Homo sapiens: one gene and its partner. The protein of the gene in region 1 interacts with the protein of each later gene in a pairwise test. Each region holds a gene or a part of one and is shown in the gene's direction. Other genes may lie near its edges.

What was found. Proteins that work in one complex are often made in the same cells at the same time.
Region 2: the proteins of ZHX2 (region 1) and NAGPA interact in a two-hybrid assay, tested with the Homo sapiens proteins (one large-scale study listed by BioGRID and IntAct).

The regions. Positions count from the first base shown.
Region 1 is NC_000008.11:122,780,031-122,783,781, forward strand, and holds the start of ZHX2 (zinc fingers and homeoboxes protein 2), read left to right. Parts: upstream 1-1,624; 5' UTR 1,625-1,916; intron 1,917-2,855; exon of another isoform or gene 2,856-3,139; intron 3,140-3,751. UniProt on the Homo sapiens protein: Acts as a transcriptional repressor. Represses the promoter activity of the CDC25C gene stimulated by NFYA.
Region 2 is NC_000016.10:5,024,329-5,027,775, reverse strand, and holds the end of NAGPA (N-acetylglucosamine-1-phosphodiester alpha-N-acetylglucosaminidase precursor), read left to right. Parts: intron 1-396; coding exon 397-498; intron 499-577; coding exon 578-641; intron 642-2,090; coding exon 2,091-2,298; 3' UTR 2,299-2,932; downstream 2,933-3,447. UniProt on the Homo sapiens protein: Catalyzes the second step in the formation of the mannose 6-phosphate targeting signal on lysosomal enzyme oligosaccharides by removing GlcNAc residues from GlcNAc-alpha-P-mannose moieties, which are formed in the first step.

The DNA.
Region 1 (3,751 bases):
GTATGTCAGAAATTAGAGCCCTAGGGCAGAACTTACAAAAACCTTTTAGCTACTTCCTTCTCCCCGGCCTCGGAAATGAAAAAGCCAAAAGGTCACCCAGCGCATCCGCCACCCAGTCAGCCCCAAGGCCAGCCGTCCTCACCCCAGTCCGGGTCCTCGCCATTGGCCTCTCCGCTGCACACGGCCACCTGTTGATGCCCTCGCGCCCACAGCCGAGTTGCAAACGGCCGCTAGAGTTCGTTCTAATTCCCCAGAGCAGAGCTGCCCGGGAAGCCCCGACGCGACGCGCCTGCTAATCTGCAGGGCGGGCGGGGACTCCGCAGAGCCTCCCAGCCCCAGGCTCCCTTTGTTTTCTCGCTGCGCTCGAAGCTTCTAAACTAGCCCCCAGACCGCATCCCCTCGTCCCCGCCCGGGAGCTGCCCAAGAGTCCACAGGCCAGCCCAGGGGGAAACAAGGTACATCTGGGCAGGAATGCGCGGCGCAGACAGGTTGCCGCCTGAGATCCCGAAGTGTACCCAGATCCCGAATTCCTTAGAGCTCTTTAGCCGAGCACTGTGGCAGGAGCGCGGCGCCCGGAATACAAGTTCATGGTTCCGAGCCGGCGGGCGAAGGGCAGCGCGATCCCCCGCCACCTTTGCTCTAAGGCGCCTAGGGGAACCTGGGGGCTGCCGCGGTGAGAGCTCCGCTCCCACTGGGAACATTGGAGTCCCAGTTGCGAAAGCGACCCGCCTAGCTTCCGAGGGACTTCTCTGCGAGCACCGCAGGCGTGTGCATTTCTTCGAATCTGAGAATTCCAGCGAACTCGGGCTCTACCAGAGTTTAAGTCGGCCCCTGGGGCGTCTGTTTGTTTATTGGCTCTTAAGGGAAAAAAGTTTGAAGATCTTTAACCAGCCTCAGACCTGGCGCGGGCGGAAATCCCGGAATCTCCCCAAGCAAAAGTGATATAACTTCAAGTCGTTATATAAGTGGGGGGCTCCTTCTTCCCCTCCCTACGCCGAGCCTTCTCATTATCATTCCGGGAGTAAAATGTGTCTCGCTCAACATAGTTTTAAAATCGTTATTATTATTTTCCTGAGCCTGAAGCCGGGCCAAGGCGCAGGCAGCGCCCAGGGTGCGTGGTGGCCCCACCCGCGCACAGTCCCACGCAAAGGGTCCCGGGGCCCGGGTACCGCCAGAGCCGGGCCTGCAAGCGCGCCCTTCGGTCCCACGGTCCGCCACTCCACGTGGTCAAGATCAACAGTTTGTTGAGCTCATCAGTGACACCTTGAACTTTTCATAAAGAAAATGGGTATTGCACGGAGACGGTTTGGCCGCGGCCGCCGCGCGGGGTCGTGCTTAATATTCAATGATCTCGCTCGCGCCTCCCCCTCCTCTTCTCGCAGAAATTCCACCGAGTCCGTTACTGGGCTCAGACTTTTAAGTTAATTTACTGCCCCCCTACCTTGGCCAGTAACCAGCGCCTTTAGGGCTAGCCTCCCCCCCAGCTCCTGCCTGAAAAATGACATTTCGCCGGTGTCTCCGGAGGGGGCTGAATTTCACTTTGTAACTTTCTGCGGAACCCGAGCCCGGGTGGCAGCTCGGGTGGTGGTATCGTATGCAAATACGCATGCTGACGTTACAGATCATGTGGGTTTTGGCGTAGATTCCCCACTGATCGAGGCATTTTTTTTCCCTTTTTTTTTCCTTTTTTTTTTTCTTTTAAAAATTTTGGCCATCGTTCTCCGTACGGGGGCTTTTTCTGTCTGTCTGTCTGGCTGGCAGGCTGGCTTTCCCCCTCTTTCCCACGGAGCCCGAGCCGGGCGCCCGGTGGGGAGTGGGGAGTGGGTGGGGGGAGCCAGCAGAGTTCCATTTTGGAACGCCCGTGCCGCGTCTCCGCGTTCCCAGCCCGGGTCCCCGCGTTCACAGCCCCAGCGCAGGTAAGAAACTTCGCCTCGGCGCGGAGCCCCCCAGCCGGCGCCGCCGGCCCCAAACCCCGCACGCCGGGCGCCGGCCACTCCAGCCCAACTTTCCCACCGCCGCCGTCGCCGCCGCGGCTCCCGAAAATGTGTTGTTAATGGGACTTGGCCGGGTTTGTGATTGGAAGGGGGGTACGGAAGGGGGGGGGTGTGCAGGCTCTTTTTGCGGGTGGGAGGAAATGAGCGGATACAGAGAGGGAAGAAGATTTTTTTTTTAAGAGTTTTGATTACAAGTTTGGATAAATGGGAGCCAGAGCGAGGAGGAGGAGGAGGAGGAGGAAAAACATGTCTACGTTTCCCTATGTCGACATAAGCCACAAAAAAATATGGCGTCCGCTTTCGACAGGGCGTTACGTAGACCCGACTGTTTTTATTTATTTATTTCGTGGCCGTCTCCCTCCCTTCTTGGCCAAACTGCGGCGCTTTGTGCAAACGGGGCAGGTCCCGCGGGGACTCCACCGGGACGTGGCCCCGTCTCCGCGCGTTTTGGCAGGCGGGGGGCTGCGTGTGTCTGCTCCCCTCCCTCCCCCTCTCCCCTCGCTCCCCTCTCCCGGTGACGATTCGCCGTAATGTGGTGGCAGGAAGCATGACGCCGTGGGCCGAGGCTGCCTCTGCTCTCGTCGCTCCCGGCGGCTGCAGGCAGCGGGCGCGCAGCGCGGGCGGCAGCCGAGCTACCTGGCGGGGGCAGGGCCGGAGCGCGGCGCTGTCCTCACCCCCGCTCAGGTGCAGGGGGAGTCCGCGCGGGGCGGGGGGCCGAGGGCGGCCGCGGGACCCCCGGCCCTGCTGTCCGCTGCCAGCTGGCCGGAGCCTCTGCCAGCCCGAGCCCACGTTCGCCCCCCTGAACGGCAGCTGGCGCTTTTCGTCTGCCCCACAAGAGGTTAATCTTTGTTGGTGTTGCAGCTTCTTTGTGGCTTCCCCAGGACTTGTATCCTCGGCTTTGCAAACTTGCCCTTTTCCCAGCCGCTTTGCAGGAGGCTGCGGAGACGAAGATGAGCGGAAAGTTGGAAACCAGCAGGCATCACAGGACGGTCCCTTTGGCCTCGTAGCTGTGCTGAGCCTGGGAGGCGGAGGAGGAGGTGGAGGCGGCGGCGGAGGAGGGTTTGTCAGGCTGGGGAGAAAACTTGATGAGGAAGCCAAATTGTGATTTGTTCAGGTTTCCACCTGATTGATAGTCTTCAAAGCCAGTAGGTCTCTACCTTCAACTGTTTCGCGGTGGCCTTTTGTTTGTCTGGGGCGTGGAGAAGGAGAGAAGTCGATGAATAAGGACTTTCCCTCGACCCCTCCCCTTTTAAAGAGTGGTTGCTCAGCTTGGCCCCCTGGGACACTGCCTTTTAGGCCCTGGAGTTCTTCCCCAACCTGCTCTCTGATCACTTTCTCTCTGTTAAGTTACCAGATCTCCAGGTCTCAGGCAGGCCCCGATGAGCAGAATGGAGTTAGAGGAGAGGATTCCTTCCCCCAGCACTTCTTGAATTGCCCAGACCTCCCACAATTACCCTCTTAAAACCACACACACACACACTTACTCACTCTCTCCTTTATATATGGCAGAAATTAATGCCTGTAGAAGTGAAGGGGGTGAGGTTCTGAGAGCTCTTCAAGATTTGAGTCAAAAGGTGATTTTCTGTTTATGAGGGCAGCGAGTTTAAGCAGTTCACTCCCAGGGCAGTAATGTCAAAAAGCGTTTGGATGACGACCAAGTGGAATAAATATCTTGTAAAATGGCATGTTTAATAGTAAAAATAGATTAATGGAGCTGTCAAGTGGTTGAATGGGACTACCATAAAGGTTTAAGTTTA
Region 2 (3,447 bases), on another chromosome or scaffold:
CTTCTGTCTCCACCTTCTGGTCTGGGAAATGCTTGCCTCTTGTCTTCTGCCCCGGCCTCACCTGCACATCACTGTGTGACTCCCCTGTGGCTGCTGCGGCCCGTTCCACAAAGGGCTCGGCTAAAACAAGGGTCCCCGGGCTCTGGCTCCAGGGCCCACCTCAAATCCAGCACGGTCTTATCTTGAGATCCTAACTGCAGTGCCTCTGTAGAGATTCTGCTTCCAAATAAGGTCACGTTCAGGGGCTAGTCCAGGGAGGGCAGGGGGTGCTTCACCTTTAGCCCGGCTCTGTACACATGGGCAGGGGCAGGTATCCTGTCCTGTCGAGAAAGGCTCTGACACTGGAGGCCCCAACCTTTCTCCTCCCTCCTCCCTCCTCCCATCTCCTTTCCATAGAGTGTCCCCTTGGCTGGCATGGGCCGGGCTGCCAGAGGCCTTGTAAGTGTGAGCACCATTGTCCCTGTGACCCCAAGACTGGCAACTGCAGCGTCTCCAGAGGTACCTATCCCTCCAAGGGGAGGGGTATGGGCAGACGCTCCTGCTCCGGCCCCTTCAGCCTGTCTCTGGTATGTTACAGTAAAGCAGTGTCTCCAGCCACCTGAAGCCACCCTGAGGGCGGGAGAACTCTCCTTTTTCACCAGGTAGGTGCTTCTGTGGGAGCTGGGGCCAGGGCGGGAGGAATCCCCCTTCTCTCCCGCACCCTTCCCCTGTGAGGTCCATCTCTGCCCTTGTCCCCTGCCAGCTCCCTGCCTTAGAGGAAGCGGGACCAGCTCTCCCCACTGTCTGCTTTGGGGACCCTGGAGCAGAGCCCAGGGCCTTCGAGTGCCCAGCCTCTGTTGTCAGCATCCCCCACTGGAGCTCAGAATGCAAACTGGGCTAGATGAGATCCCAGGGTGGGGGCAGGAGGTTTCCTCATTCTGTCACCCAGGCAGAAGTGCTGTAGTACAGTCAGCTCACTGCGATCCTCCCGCCTCAGCCTCCCAAGTAGCTAGGACGACAGGCACGTGCCCCCATGCCCGGCTAATTTTATTTCTTACTGTTTTTTAGAGATAGGATCTCACTATTTTGCACAGACGAGGTGCACAGTCCTGGGCTCAAGTGATCCTCCCACCTTGGCCTCCCAGCCCCCATGCCCAGCATCCAGCTGTGTTTTATTTGGCTTACATAATTTTTAAAAAGTTAAAATATATCAGCAGCATCTAAAAATCAGTAACATTCACATTTTTTTAAACTTTTTTTTTTGAGACGGGGTCTCACTCTGTTGCCTAGGCTGGAGTGCAGTGGTGCGATCTCAGCTCACCACAACCTCCGCCTCCTGGGTTCAGGCAATTCTCCTGCCTCAGTCTCCTGAGTAGCTGGGATTACAGGTGCCCGGCTAATTTTCATATTTTTAGTAGAGACAGGATTTCGCCATGTTGGCCAGGCTGGTCTTGAACTCCTGACCTCAAGTGATACGCCCGCCTAAGCCTCACAAAGTGCTGGGATTGCAGGCATGAGCACCACGCCCAGCCTTAAAAACCTTTTTAATGGCTTCTCTTAAAATATCAGGCCAGGCGTGGTGGCTCACGCCTGTAATCCTAGCACTTTGGGAGGCCGAGGCAGGTGGATCACTTGAGGTCAGGAGTTCAAGACCAGCCTGGCCAACATGGTGAAACCTGGTCTCTACTGAAAATACGAAAATTAGCCAGGCGTGGTGATTCGAGCCTGTAGTCCCAGCTACTCGGGAGTCCAAGGCAGGGGAATCGTTTGAAGCCAGGAGGCGGAGATTGCAGTGAGCTGAGATCATGCCACTGCACTCCAGCCTGGATGACAGGGCGAGACTCTGTCTCAAAAAAAAAAAAAAAAAATCAGGAGATGGGGCAGCACGGACCTGCATTGTACGTCATGACTGCCTCTGCTGTTCCCTGCACATGTCTTAAATGTTGCCCCATCCCCACCTAGTCCATTTTGCTCATAACATTCCCTGTGTGGTCCCTGGAGGCACCTGATTTAGTGCTATCTATGCCGGGTAGAGGGAAGCCCCTCCAGTGCTACCCAAGCCCTGAGCCCACCCAGCAGTCCCCCACTTGGGGCTTCTCTCCTGTCTGCAGGACCGCCTGGCTAGCCCTCACCCTGGCGCTGGCCTTCCTCCTGCTGATCAGCACTGCAGCAAACCTGTCCTTGCTCCTGTCCAGAGCAGAGAGGAACCGGCGCCTGCATGGGGACTATGCATACCACCCGCTGCAGGAGATGAACGGGGAGCCTCTGGCCGCAGAGAAGGAGCAGCCAGGGGGCGCCCACAACCCCTTCAAGGACTGAAGCCTCAAGCTGCCCGGGGTGGCACGTCGCGAAAGCTTGTTTCCCCACGGTCTGGCTTCTGCAGGGGAAATTTCAAGGCCACTGGCGTGGACCATCTGGGTGTCCTCAGCCCCTGTGGGGCAGCCAAGTTCCTGATAGCACTTGTGCCTCAGCCCCTCACCTGGCCACCTGCCAGGGCACCTGCAACCCTAGCAATACCATGCTCGCTGGAGAGGCTCAGCTGCCTGCTTCTGGCCTGCCTGTGTCTGCTGCCGAGAAGCCCGTGCCCCCGGGAGGGCTGCCGCACTGCCAAAGAGTCTCCCTCCTCCTGGGGAAGGGGCTGCCAACGAACCAGACTCAGTGACCACGTCATGACAGAACAGCACATCCTGGCCAGCACCCCTGGCTGGAGTGGGTTAAAGGGACGAGTCTGCCTTCCTGGCTGTGACACGGGACCCCTTTTCTACAGACCTCATCACTGGATTTGCCAACTAGAATTCGATTTCCTGTCATAGGAAGCTCCTTGGAAGAAGGGATGGGGGGATGAGATCATGTTTACAGACCTGTTTTGTCATCCTGCTGCCAAGAAGTTTTTTAATCACTTGAATAAATTGATATAATAAAAGGAGCCACCAGGTGGTGTGTGGATTCTGAATCATGGACTTAGGTCACTGCTAGGGCTTAGCAGGTGTGGCTTATCCTGAAACAGAAGTCACAACGGCATCCTGGAGCCAAGTCCTGTTCCCTGCTTGTTTAATCCAGTGCTTATCAAACTTTAATATGCCACAGGTCACGAGGAGATCTTGTTAAAATGCAGATTTGGGCCTGGGGTGAGGCCAGCAATTCTGCGTTTCCAACAAGCTCTCTGACGATGCTGATGCTTCAGGTCCCCAGACCACACTTCTTGTCTTTCTTAGAAACAGGGTCTCGCTCTGTTGCCCTGGCTGGAGTGCAATGGCACGATCTCGGCTCACTGCAATTTTGACCTCCTGGGCTCAAGTGATTCTCCCACCTCAGTCTCTCAAGTAGCTGGGACTATAGGCACATGCCACCATGCCCAGCTAATTTTTAAAATTTTTTTTGCAGAGAAGGGGTGTCACTGAGTTGCCCAGGCTGGTCTCAAGCTCCTGGCCTCAAGTCAACCTCCTGCCATGGCCTCCCAAAGTGCTG